Regions from separate parts of the Homo sapiens genome. Here regions 2 and 3 are each linked to region 1. Evidence: fine-mapped expression QTL. A gene starts in region 1. Each other region holds a variant in brackets. All regions are shown on one strand. Distances are from middle to middle. Region 1 holds the start of SP100 (SP100 nuclear antigen). Region 2 overlaps SP100 (SP100 nuclear antigen). Region 3 overlaps SP100 (SP100 nuclear antigen).

What was found. PIP is the estimated chance that this variant, and not a neighbour inherited with it, causes the effect. A credible set is the group of variants that fine-mapping cannot tell apart.
Region 2: its variant is the best candidate, but not a certain one, in a credible set for the expression of SP100 in whole blood (INTERVAL, PIP 0.85).
Region 3: its variant is the best candidate, but not a certain one, in a credible set for the expression of SP100 in whole blood (TOPMed, PIP 0.51).

Annotation. Positions count from the first base shown.
Region 1 is chr2:230,413,879-230,418,179 of GRCh38, forward strand. SP100 (SP100 nuclear antigen) reads left to right here and starts at 2,323. Exons shown (of 29, transcript NM_001080391.2): 1 at 2,323-2,450; 2 at 3,713-3,787. The coding sequence starts at 2,419. RefSeq lists an enhancer at 1,970-2,489.
Region 2 is chr2:230,508,793-230,512,792 of GRCh38, forward strand. SP100 (SP100 nuclear antigen) reads left to right here. Exons shown (of 29, transcript NM_001080391.2): 24 at 2,333-2,374. It overlaps LOC101928816 (a long non-coding RNA gene), which reads right to left. Exons shown (of 4, transcript XR_427235.4): 2 at 1,478-1,547. Among named protein-coding and RNA genes, the nearest start is that of SP100, 95 kb to the left of the region's middle. The variant T/C (reference allele first, on the strand shown) is at 1,872.
Region 3 is chr2:230,465,023-230,469,022 of GRCh38, forward strand. SP100 (SP100 nuclear antigen) reads left to right here. Exons shown (of 29, transcript NM_001080391.2): 12 at 1,279-1,332; 13 at 2,098-2,193. All of the region lies in intron 3 of LOC101928816 (a long non-coding RNA gene), which reads right to left. Among named protein-coding and RNA genes, the nearest start is that of SP100, 51 kb to the left of the region's middle. The variant C/T (reference allele first, on the strand shown) is at 1,969.

The DNA.
Region 1 (4,301 bases):
GGGAGTAGCCTCTGGACCTTTTGTTACTTAGGCATGGAAAGTTAGGGTTTTCCTTTCAATTTAGTTCTAGGAAGTTAGCATGAAATGGCCTTAGGTTCCCTGCCTCCAGACCCTATTCTCCTGCCTCACCCACACCACTGAAGTCTGAACTGAAGCTGCTCTTGGTGAAATGTAAGAGGCCCATCATCTGGCTGGGTGCCCTGCCTGTGGTCCTTCCTCAATCACTGCCTCCCCTGCTTTTGAGTTTTCCAGGCTCCAGTAACTGGAACTACTTCTTGACAACAGAAATATTCCCTATTGCCTGTGCTCCTTGCAGCCATGGAAAATGCCCCAGGAGTTCCATTATTTCCTTCTAAACAGTCCAGCAGGATTTTTAGCTCACATGTCTTCTTAATGTGGTCCCGTCCCTTTCCCAACCCCAGTGTGTCTGACATTGTTTTCTGGATCAGAGAAACTTTGCTTTCTTCACAGAGGCCTACAGATTCTCCATATACCAGCGGAGCATGGTGCATGCTCATCTGTCTCCAACCTCATCTGATGAGAACATCTCCTTCCCTGCTGCCAGGAGGTGCCCCAGCATGGGCATGTCTGCCCGTGAAGTTCAACCCGTAAGGAATTCCCTGCCAGCCTGTGGCTCATTGGTCTGGAATTCCAGGTGCTGCTCTTAGTAGCCCCTAAGCACATCCAGGGAAAAGCTGGCACGTTTATGTCAGTGCCACTCAATGGCCTGAGCCTGCCTGCTGCCCAGAGGCAGCGAGAGGGGAGAACGTGAACCACACCAAAGCATACTGTGTGGTCCATGCCAGGACTTCTTGGGACCAATGTGCCTCATGGAGACTGGGATCAAAGGACAGCTGTGCCCAAAAGAGGCTCAGCTTACCAGCCCTTCAGCCCCATAAAGTCGGGGAGTCATGGGGGGTAGGAAGAATGAGAGAAAGAGAGAGAGACCTACAGGTGAGAGAAAGAGAGAGAGACCTACAGGTGTGCAGTGCCTGATAGAAACAGTGACCTTCGCCCACCGGCAAAGCTGTCCTCACCAATGTCCTGGTGCCTGGTCATTCACTCATGGGGAAAAGAAGAGCAGAAGTAGAGTGAGGGTAGAAAGCCCCTTCCCCCACATTTTCAAATGTACCTGGACAAGCATCCTTATTCACAGCTGGAAGAAGTTGGATTCAGTAGAATGCCATTTGGAAAACACCGTTCTGAAGTGCCATCCCCTCTGGCCCCTGAATCCTCACCAGCTTCCACCCTCTGCTCACCTTGGGCCCTGGATTCCAGCGCCCCCAGGCTCCCAGCTGCCTCCCTGTCTCTGCCCCATGGTCCGGCCTGGAGTTCTGGTCCCTGGTTGTGTCCTGTGGCCCCATTCTCATGCGCCCTTTGCTTCTGTTTCTTTACCTATGACTTTATACTGATGTAAAGCGAGTCTTCTCGGTCGCTTCTTGTTCTCTGAGGAATGATGAATCAGAATCTAAATGGAAAATCTGGGCAGAGATAGAACCTCCCGCGGGAGCCACCCTGCCCTTCCATGTCTAGATCATCTGGGTTCCAACCTCCATCCTCCTCCAATGAGAAGCTTTTGTTCTCTCAAGATTCCAGTGACTTCTCCGAAGCTTAGGTGTCTCTTCACCCCTGGCTGTTCCAAGGCGGCCCCATAGTCAAGATTCCTTAAACCCTTGCCCCTTAAAATGTTTGCCTTTCTTACCATGCTGGCTCCAGCCTCTGGTCCCAGGGGTGTGGAGAGTTCTCTCTTACTTCTGGCTGATTTCCAGGAAGGCTAAGCACACTCTCCCCAGGTTATAATGCTGAGCATTTTGGTTCTCTCCAGCCCTGGGTCCCAATGTCAGGACCTACCTTAGTCCAGTCCATGCTCTCCCATGGGCCTGAGAGAAGATTTGAGGTTTCTGGCTTTCCCTCCAACCCTCCAACTCCCACCCCAAGCCATGTCAGCAAGGGGAAGGGGCAAACATGGAGTTTCCCCCCCAACTCCCATGTAAACTATGCCCCCTCTTAGAGGGCAGAGCAGCTAAGGACAATTTTGTTTCAAGGACATTTTTTTTGGCTGTGTATTGCACAAACAAGTGGACACCCGGGAGCTGGCCCTGCTCGTCCCCTGGGCCCTCCTTCCCTGGTCCTGCAGGTCTTGCTGCTTGTCAGGCCTCTCCTCCAACCCTCTGCCACATTTCAGAAAAGCTGAGAATCCCTTGGAGTGAAAAAGGAGGAGAAACACAGTGTCCGTAGCCCAGAAGGAGGTTAAATACTTTCACTTCTCTTTTCCCCATTTGGGCGGAGCCCTTTCTGAGTCAGTCTGTCGGCCGACTTCCTGCTTGGGGCCTGGGCAGCCACACTGCACGCAGGCTGGGCCGACTGAGGGGCTCAGAGGCCAGGCTCTGAGGCCCACGCAGGGCCTAGGGTGGGAAGATGGCAGGTGGGGGCGGCGACCTGAGCACCAGGTGAGTCTTTATCTCCCTTCCTTTAACCTTTATCTCTGGCTATATTGCAGCTTTCATGCCTTTAGTTCAGTTTGTGCCTAAGGCTTCACTTTAATCCTTCTTTGCAAGAACATAGGTATGCGATGTTATATAATGAAATGAAAGACAAGTAATGAGGAAATCAGATTTTTTAAACAGGAGCAGGACAGCTGTTGGTGTGAGTTCAACTTGCCATAACACACGTGACTTTCTTGTTTTGGATTTACTGCTCAGCTGACCGGGACACTCTAAACATAGCAGTTGTTGGTGGCTGGGATTAACTATTTCCTCATGATCTGTGAACCCTTTCACCCCTCAGCCTTCCTCTACCTTCAAATATGTCATGTCAAAAAAGGTGCTTTAGAAAATAAACACTCCAGGGTAAACACCTGGCTTACTTTTAAACATCAGACGCTGTGGTCTCACCTGTCCTGGCAAGGGGCCTCTGCCGGCTGTTCCCATGACTGGCTCAGGGTCTGAGTTCTTATTCCATCAACCTTGATCAAAAGAAGGAAAGGGAAGAAAAAGGCCCAGGGTGACAAACGGCTAAATATTTTCATTTTTACCTCAATTTCCTGTCCCAAGATGGGGGATACCTCTGACCAGAAAAGAGAAGGAAATCCTAACTTTTCTCTAGTAGTGAGTTGAGAAATAACATTACTTAATCTTTTAAATTTTTTAATACAAAAGAAATACACTGTACATTATTGTTCATAAAATTTAAAACAGTGGAGAAGTATATTAAGGAAAAAGTCATCTTTGCCACTCAGCCATTCTTGTAGCTTCTCTTCCCAGTCCTGTGAAGAGTCTTGGGCACAGCTTTTCTTATATTTTTCTATGCATTTATATATCTAATGCATTTTTTGTAAATACGTAATTTATGTTCTTGATTTATAATAAATTATATTACATGTGCTAGTCTGCATTTTGCATTTTTACTTATTTTAATAGTGGAAAACTTAGAGATCTTTTAACCTTAATACATATAGATCTGCCTCATTCTTTTTATACATGCTATTCCATAGAATTGATATATGATAATTATTTATTCTCCAATTGAAGGACATTTAGATTGTTTTTAAATTGTTCACATTTACCAATAAGCTATCATAACAATGATTATATATTTCTTTTTGGGTTTTTACATCTAAACAAATATTTATCTTGTCTCTAAACCTTAAAAATGTAATTATTGAGGCAAAGGGTCCAGTTATTTACTTGGTCCTGCCAAATTGTCTTTCTAGGAGGCTGAATGAATGTATTTCACCAGTAGCAAATGAGATGAACCATCTTCCTGCACACAGCCACGATTTGCAAAGGTGATGAATGAAGAGTTATGTCTTGTTTTAATTTGTATTTTCCTTACGATGGGAAAATTGATCAGCTTTTCATGTTTCTTGGCCATTTAAATTCCCTCTTCTATAAATTGCTTGTTTGTTTTTTGCCAATATGATTCCGTTGAGGTGTTTGTCCTTTTTTTCGTGATATGGGAGAATTCACTAAATATTCTGTAAGTATAAATATACTTTTCTTGTCCATTACCTTTGTCTATGGTGACTTTTATCTTATTAAAGCTTAAAACTTAACATATAGGCCTCTTGTGATACAGATTTTTTTAAGATAGATGCACCCTTGTTATAAACGAGGTGATGCTGACACCCTCTGTGAGCACTCTTAGTTTTTACAATTATTTCTGTGTTAAGGTGGCAGATTCGCTGCTACCGCTATTCCAGGAAGAGTTCCTCCTCTAATATCTCTGAAAATTTTTTAAATTTTTAAACAAAAATATTCTTACATTGGAGCCACTTTAGCCTTCACAGCTTTTATTTGCCC
Region 2 (4,000 bases), 95 kb after region 1:
ATCCCATGGTCACTACACATGACCTAATGGAGAATTCCCCCTAAAATGTATATATAGGCATATGTCACCCAGGGAAGCAAACAACAAAAAACATTCTCTCCTTTTCTTTTATCTTTTACCTCCACCACACACACACACACACACACACACACACATACACACACACACACACACACATACACACACACACGCGAGTTCTTCAGGTGAAAATTTTGGACTGGGAGGCAGAGTGCCCTGTGAGGCTGCTGACCTAGAAAATCTTTTCCTTTGTGGAGAGGCCCTTTGGCCCCAGTAAAAGGGCTGCACAGACCTCACTTCTATCTGTGAAGGTGAAATTCTCCCTCTGTGGAGGTAGTATGTGGAGTTCATAGACCAGTGGTCTTCATACTATATGTATTCTATGGAAAAATGGTGAGATCACTGATGCCTTCCATGGCCTCTCCAAGGCTGGGTATAAGAGAGAACCTGGTGAAGGAAGGAGATGGAAGAACTTCCATTTTCCTAAGCTCTGACATGGGTGACCTTGGATATTTCTGCCATACCAGGAAGTCACAATCTTTACAAAGCTGGCTCCTGGGGCTACCTGCTCCACTGGCTTTATGACTAGAGATTCAGTGACTAGGCTCTGTATCCACTGGGTTTTCTGGAGAAAGACATTATTTGATATAATTATTAAAATCAAACATGTCTACCCACTGCCAGACAGTCAAGGCTGATGCAGTCTGGGCTAATCAATTGAGCTGGCCATCTCCCATCCCTTCATCACAGGCACCCTCTCTCCATTCCCTGAGGGCCCACAGCTCTAGAGGTGAAATTGCCTCGGTTCTCAGAGGATCTCCCCGGAGGGTCTATCTTCCCTCCTCTCCCCTCGGTTTCTAATGCTTGTGTCACTCTCAGCACCGCGTGGTAACTGCTATTGTTGCCAGCTTTCCTGCTTATAAGTTTTTTGTTAAACCTGCTGGTGATAGCTGAGATACCCCAGGATAATAAGTCATAAAAGTCCAAGCTAATCGTTTACTGGCTGCTAAGAAACCTCTTCTCCCAAGTGACAATTGTGTTCACTTGTTCATGCACTTATGTATCCATTAAACAAACAACTGTGGAGCCACTACAAAGCTCCAGGTGATGGGCTTGGCCAATGAAATAATGCAAAACAAAGGAGGCCAAAAGGATGAACCTTAAGGATTCTGTCAACCTTATTGTCTTACCTGGGTGAATAACTCATGGGATGGAGTGGGAGATTCTAGGCCACTAAGCTGCTATACTTTATCTTAGCCAAAAGGCCCAGATTGCTTCTGGCAGGTGGTAATATGGCCACCTCTTCTATCATCATGCCTTGGATCCCACTGAGTGGTTTGTCTAAGGCCTCTCTGCCTTGAGCTACAGGTAAAAGCTTTAGCAGTCATTGTTTCATTCCACAGATACCCTAGGTCAAAGCAAGCTCTCAAGATTCAGGAGAAAGTGGAGAGGTGCTTACCTTCAGGAGAAGAGCTACAGTACTGGGGATCTTGGAGGCATTTTGTCTTCAAAGATGTGTTCCTGGAGAGCTGCAGAAAGGGTTAGAGTTATTCCTGGGACACCTGCATGGTGTCCAAGACTCTGGGCCCTGTGGTCACTGGGAGCTGTGGAGGAAGAGTCGGCCGATTCCCTTTGCAGCTTCTCTGGATGGAATGACACTTCCTTTTTTTTTTTTTTTTTTTTTTTTTTTTTTTTTTTTTTTTTTTTTTTTTTTTTTTTTTTACAGAGTCTAGCTCTGTCACCAGGCTAGAGTGCAATGGTGCAATCTCAGCTCACTGCAACCTCCACCCCCCGGGTTCAAGCGATTCTCCTCCCTCAGCCCACTACAGGTGCGCGCCACCACACTCAGCTAA[T/C]TTTTGTATTTTTAGTAGTGACGGGGTTTCACCACGTTAGCCAGGATGGACTTGATCTCTTGACCTTGTGATCTGCCCTCCTCGGCCTCCCAAAGTGCTGGGATTACAGGCATGAGCCACTGCACCTGGACACTTCCAAATTTAGACAAACATGCCTGCAGGCCCCTTGAAGTAGGAGGACCGATAGAGTTGCTCCAGCTCAGTCTCCCTGAATGGTTTCACGAAGGCCTGCCTTGGGTGTGAGAGCCAGGAAATGGCACTTGCATTGGGCCAAACTGTCACTGACACATAATTTAGTGCTTTTTTATTCTTCAGTTAGATGTACAGGTCCATAAAAGCAGACATGAAACAAAAGAAGGGCTGTGGCATGAATCCCTTAAAAATAAAGAAGTCTGTTCAAATGTGGGGTTAATGAAAAATCACACTCAATATTGTACCAATCTTTCTGTTTTTTTCAACAGAGAATACTGGAATCTCACAACAATACCTTAGTTGACCCTTGTGTAAGTATAAATTTCCGACTATGACCCCAAAATAAGTCAGGCCTTTCTCCAGGCACACTATGTCATGACTGCCTTTCCCCGAAGCATGCTCAGTCTCAGTTGGAGTATGTTGCTGTGTGTGATTAGAAGATGCAAGCCAGGTACCTGGGTCTGGGATTGGGTGTCTCAGTGCAAAAGCAGCCTTTTGTTTCAGTAGAAATCTTCAAATTTCCTCATTTCCCTTAGAAAGTGAGTATAGGAGGCTGAGCTCTAGATCACCGAGGCCTCCAGAGACAAGAACTTGAAGTAGTAATGGACAGGGCTGGCCTGCCGATTAGGGAGAAGGATCAAATGTCAGAAAATAAAAGCATTTTCAAGTAGGTGGTGGGAATGGAAAGGAAAATCCCAAATATCTGCTCCAAGGTGCAGACAGAGCTCAGTCAGCCAGAAGGAACAGACCGAGCCGAGCTGGTGAGTTCGAGGTATGGACTCTGTCATTAGTTCTGCAGAGGAAGACACACACGAAAAGTGAGTCTCTTATGAAGCCCCTATTGCCACTCTTGAGGGAGGTTTAGGCTCAGTATGCTGAGCTGGTTAGGACAAAAACCATCACCACTTGGCAACTGATGAGGCATGTTTATTCTCACTTCTTGACTGGTGCTCAATGATGTACAAACCTGATTCCACAGGCTCCATTATCAACCAAAATTAAGGCTGTTTAGGAATAAATAAATTTTTTGAGACAGGATCTTGCTGTGTCACCCAGGCTAGAATGCAGTGACACAATCACAGCTCACTGCAGCCTCAACCTTCTGGGCTTAAGTGATCCTCCCACCTCAGCCTCCCAAATAGCCAGGACTACGGGTGCATGCCACCACATCAGCTAATTTTTTTAATTTGTTGTAGAGCCAGGGTCTCACTATGTTGCCCAGGCTTGTCTTGAACTCCTGAGCTGAAGTGATCCTCCCAACTCAGCCTCCCAAAGTGCTAGGATTACAGGCATGAGCCACAGTGCTGGCCAGGAAGAAATAATTTGATAACGATTTCTTAAAAGCCAAATGTGAGGAGTGACTCAATAAAACACACCAACAAAGTTGGGAGTATTGGGAGTTTTTAACAAATTGAAATGCCTTTTTTTTTTTTTTTTTTTTTTTTTTTTTTTGAGACGGAGTCTCGCTCCATTGCCCAGGCTGGAGTCCAGTGGCACGATCTTGCCTCACTGCAACCTCTACCTGCTGGATTCAGGCAATTCTCCTGCCTCAGCCTCCCAAGTAGCTGGGACTACAGGTGTGTGCCACCATGCCTGGCTGATTTTTGTATTTTTAGTAGAGACAGGGTTTTGTCATGCTGATCAGGCTGGTCTTGAACTCCTGACCTCGTGATCCACCTGCCTCAGCCTCCCAAAGTGCTGGGATTACAGGCATGAGCCACCGCACTGGCCACAAGTTGAAGTGCTCTTATAGCAGAGGTCCCCAAACTTTTTGGTGCCAGGAACCAATTTTGTGGAAGACAGTTTTTCCACAGACCGGGATGGGGTTGGGGGCAGGATGATTTTGGGATGTTTCAAGCACATTAAATTTATCCTGCACTTTATTTCTATTATTATTACATTGTAATAGATACTGAAATAATGAAATAATTATATAA
Region 3 (4,000 bases), 51 kb after region 1:
ATTAGGAGTTCGAGACCATCCTGGCCAATATGGTGAAACCCTGTCTCTACTAAAAATACAAAAATTAGCCAGGCATGGTGGCGCTTGCCTATAGTCCCAGCCACTCGGGAGGCTGAGGCCAAAGAATCACTTGAACCCAGGAGAGGGATGTTGCAGTGAGCCAAGATCATACCACTGCACTCCAGCCTGGGTGACAGAGCAAGACTCCATCTCAAAAAAAAAAATTAGCCAGGAATGGTAGTGTGTGTGCACCTGTGATCCAGCTACTCGGGAGGCTGAGGTGAGAGAGTCACTGGAACCTGGGAAGTTGAGGCTGCAGTGAGTTACGATTGTGCCACTGCACTCTAGCCTGGGTGACAGAGTGAGACCCTGTCTCAAAAAAAATAAGTAAAAAAGAACGAGATCATGTATTTTGAGAGAACGTAAATGGAGCTGGAGGCTATTATCCTTAGCAAAGTAACGCAGAAACAGAAAACCAAATACCATATGTTCTCACTTGTAAGTGGGATCTTAATAATAAGAACTTATGAACACAAAGAAGGAAACAGCAGATGCTGGGGTCTACTTGAGGATGGAGGGTTGGAGGAGGGAGAGGAGAAGAAAAGATAACTATTGAGTACTGGGCTTAATACCTGGGTGATGAAATCATCTGTACAACAAACTCCTGTGACACACATTTACCCATGTGACAAACCTTCACATATACCCCCAAACCTAAAATAGAAGTTGAAAAAATTAATTAAAAAGAGGCATTTCCAAATAATACACACAGAGGATTATGGAGAGAGCTGGGCAGGATCCCAACATTATGACCCTGAACCTCCAGAACTGGATTCACTAGAAGGAGAGAGAGAAAAACGCTCATCAAAACTTTGTTATTGGCAGGGCACGATGGCTCAGGTCTGTAATCCCAGCATTTTGGGAGGCTGAGGCAGGTGGATCACCTGAGGTCAGGAGTTCGAGACCAGTCTGACCAACACAGTGAAACCCCGTCTTTACTAAAAATACAAAAATTAGCCGGGCTTGGTGGTGCACAACTATAATCCCAGCTACTCAGGAGGCTGAGGCAGGAGAATCACTGGAACCTGGGAGGCAGAAGCTACAGTGTACCAAGATTGCACCACTGCACTCCAGCCTGGGTGATAGAACAAGACTCCATCTCAAAAAAAAAAAAAAAAAAACTTTGTTATTAACCCAAGCCCATTTGCCATGTCAGTTGTCATAGAATTTATAAGTCTCTTGCATACAAATAACGGGTTTCTCCCTTTTACTTTACAGAGCCCATGGATTTCAGAAAATTATCTACATTCAGAGAAAGTTTTAAGAAAAGAGGTAAGAGAAAGCTTTAGGAAAAGAGGTAAGAGAAAATAACTTCTCTTCATGGTTATAAATGAACAATATTTTCTACAAAAGAGTCAGTCTAATTCCTTGCTATATCCTTCAAAGTAAAATATAAATTTGCTTTAAATTTCAATGGTTCCTATTTTAGCCTTTGTATTAGGGAGGTTGGCTAACTGCTATAACATATGAACCCAAAGAAGTCAATGACCCCAACACAACAGAAGGTTTTTTATTTTTTTAGTAGAAGTTTGTATTTTTTTCAACTGAATATTTCAAGGATTTTTAGATGAGGGAAAGGTTGGGCTCTGTTTCAAGCAGTTCTTCAGGGAAGCAGGCAAGTAGAAGATCTGCCTTCTCCCATCCTAGACTTTCATGGTTGCCCTGAGAGAGAAGCAAATTTACAAATAAATACAAATCCATATACAAAAACCACAACAAAACCATAAAGGGACAAGTAAAGAAAGAAAGATAATGTGGTGTAAGAAGACAGAGGGCCAAGACAAAGCAGAGATGCCCACTGGGGCTAAAATTTTCTCAGCCTCAGGCTCAGGTGACAGTGAGGGATAAAATACTAACCTTGAGCCACACAAATCTGAATGAAAAGGCAGATCATGGAGGTTTGAGGCA[C/T]GGACATTCTTGCCCTGAAGTTTCAGAGCATCACAAATTTTCCTAGTTTCCTTTTCATAGAATATTATTCTGACTTGGTTCCCTTATCATACATTGAGAGCTCCAAAGGACATTTGCTCCTTTCTGCAGTGATAGGACAAGACCACGACTTTTCAGAATCCAGTGAGGAGGAGGCGCCCGCAGAAGCCTCGAGCGGGGCACTGAGAAGCAAGCATGGTGAGAAGGGTAAGAACAGCTCCCTTGACTTCAGGGCTCTGACTTCAGAGCACCTCTTCCCTGATGCACTGTGCTCTGAGCACACACAACAGCTATCCAGGAGCCAGTTCTCTGCATCTACCTCATCTGGCCATTTTGAAAAATGCAAAGAAAGAAGTCACTCTAAATTCAGGCTTAACAAGATGGTTGTGGTTGAGTGGCAGTGGCCTGTTTACTACATACTGCCTGTATTAGTCCATTTTCATGTTGCTGATAAAGACATACCTGAGACTGGGTAATTTACAAAAGAAAGAGGTGTAATGGACTTACAGTTCCACATGGCTGGGGAGGCCTCACAATCATGGCAGAAGGTGAAAGGCACGTCTCACATGGTGGCAGACAAGAGAAGAGAGCTTCTGCTGGGAAACTCCCCCTTATATAACCATTCAGATCTTGTAAGACTTATTCACTATCACAAGAACAGCACAGGAAAGATCTCTCCCCATGATTCAATTACGTGCCACCAGGCCCCTCCCACAACACATGGGAATTCAAGATGAGATTTGGGTGAGGACACAGCCAAACCATATCACTGCCAGACCTATTAACTCCAAAGTATTGGATTTATGTAGTGATTTCTACTTCTGCTCATTCTCTGTTTTGTAAAGAAAAGAAAGTACACTAGTCTGTTATTGCCTGATTTTGTCACCAACTTGTTCAAAATTCCAAAGCTTCTGGTCATACTCTCTAGTTATTGACAGAAAGAAAGCCTCCTGTTTCTTACCATCAGATTCAATTCATAGCTTTTGACAGATGGCCCCCAACATGAAATTGGCCAAATAGTGATATTTGAAAATATATTTACAAATAAGATCTACTTGCATCTTTACAACAACCTAAAAGGTGGGTGAGATAACTATTGTTCCCCCCATTTGACAGATGGGGAAACTAAGGCACACTTAAGGATCTTTTTTCTTTGCACATCACATATGGAAAGTTATAGGAGGAGACAAGACTAACAACCCAAACTCTTAATAAACATTCATAATCCTCTATAAAACCTTCAAAGCCAGATGTACTTCAAAGTTCAAAAAATGTTTTATTATTTTAGAAAGACAATGTGGTTTATATTCTATATACAACAAAATACCCTAGTAGGATCCAGGGAAGAATCCCATTCTCAAATATACTAATGTTTATACAGCAAATTATATAAATATTCACACCAAATATGATAAGATTTTACACGGACTCATGGCAACTCAAGTCCAGATTCACTGCCAAATTAGTTAGCTGCAAACCTATGAAAACAATACTGGTTATTAAAATATCTTTGAGGCCAGGTGTGGTGGCTCACGCCTATAATCCCAACACTTTGGGAGGCTGAGGGGCTGAGGCAGGTGGATCTTTTGAGCCCAGGAGTTCAAGACCAGCCTAGGCAACATGGCAAAACCCCATTTCTACCAAAAAATGCAAAAAATTAGCTGGGCATGGTGGTGGTGCATGCCTGTAGTCCCAGTGATGTGGGAGGCTGAGGTGGAAGGATCATTTGAGCCTGGAAGGTCAAGACTGCAGTGAGCCAAGATTGCACCACTGCCCTCCAGCTTGGCTGACAGAGTGAGACCCTGTCTCAAAAAAAAAAAAAAAAAAAAAAAAGTCATTGATTTTGCAATTAGGGCTAAAGGATTGTGGGTCTGTGCTCCATTTGATAGTAATCTCTTTCCCTTAGATGGGAAGAGACAGAAATGATCCTCATAGAATATTTATAGTCCAAATTCTGTCAACAGTGTAAGCAGTCATAAGATTTATAGATCTTTTAGTTAGATATTATTGATTT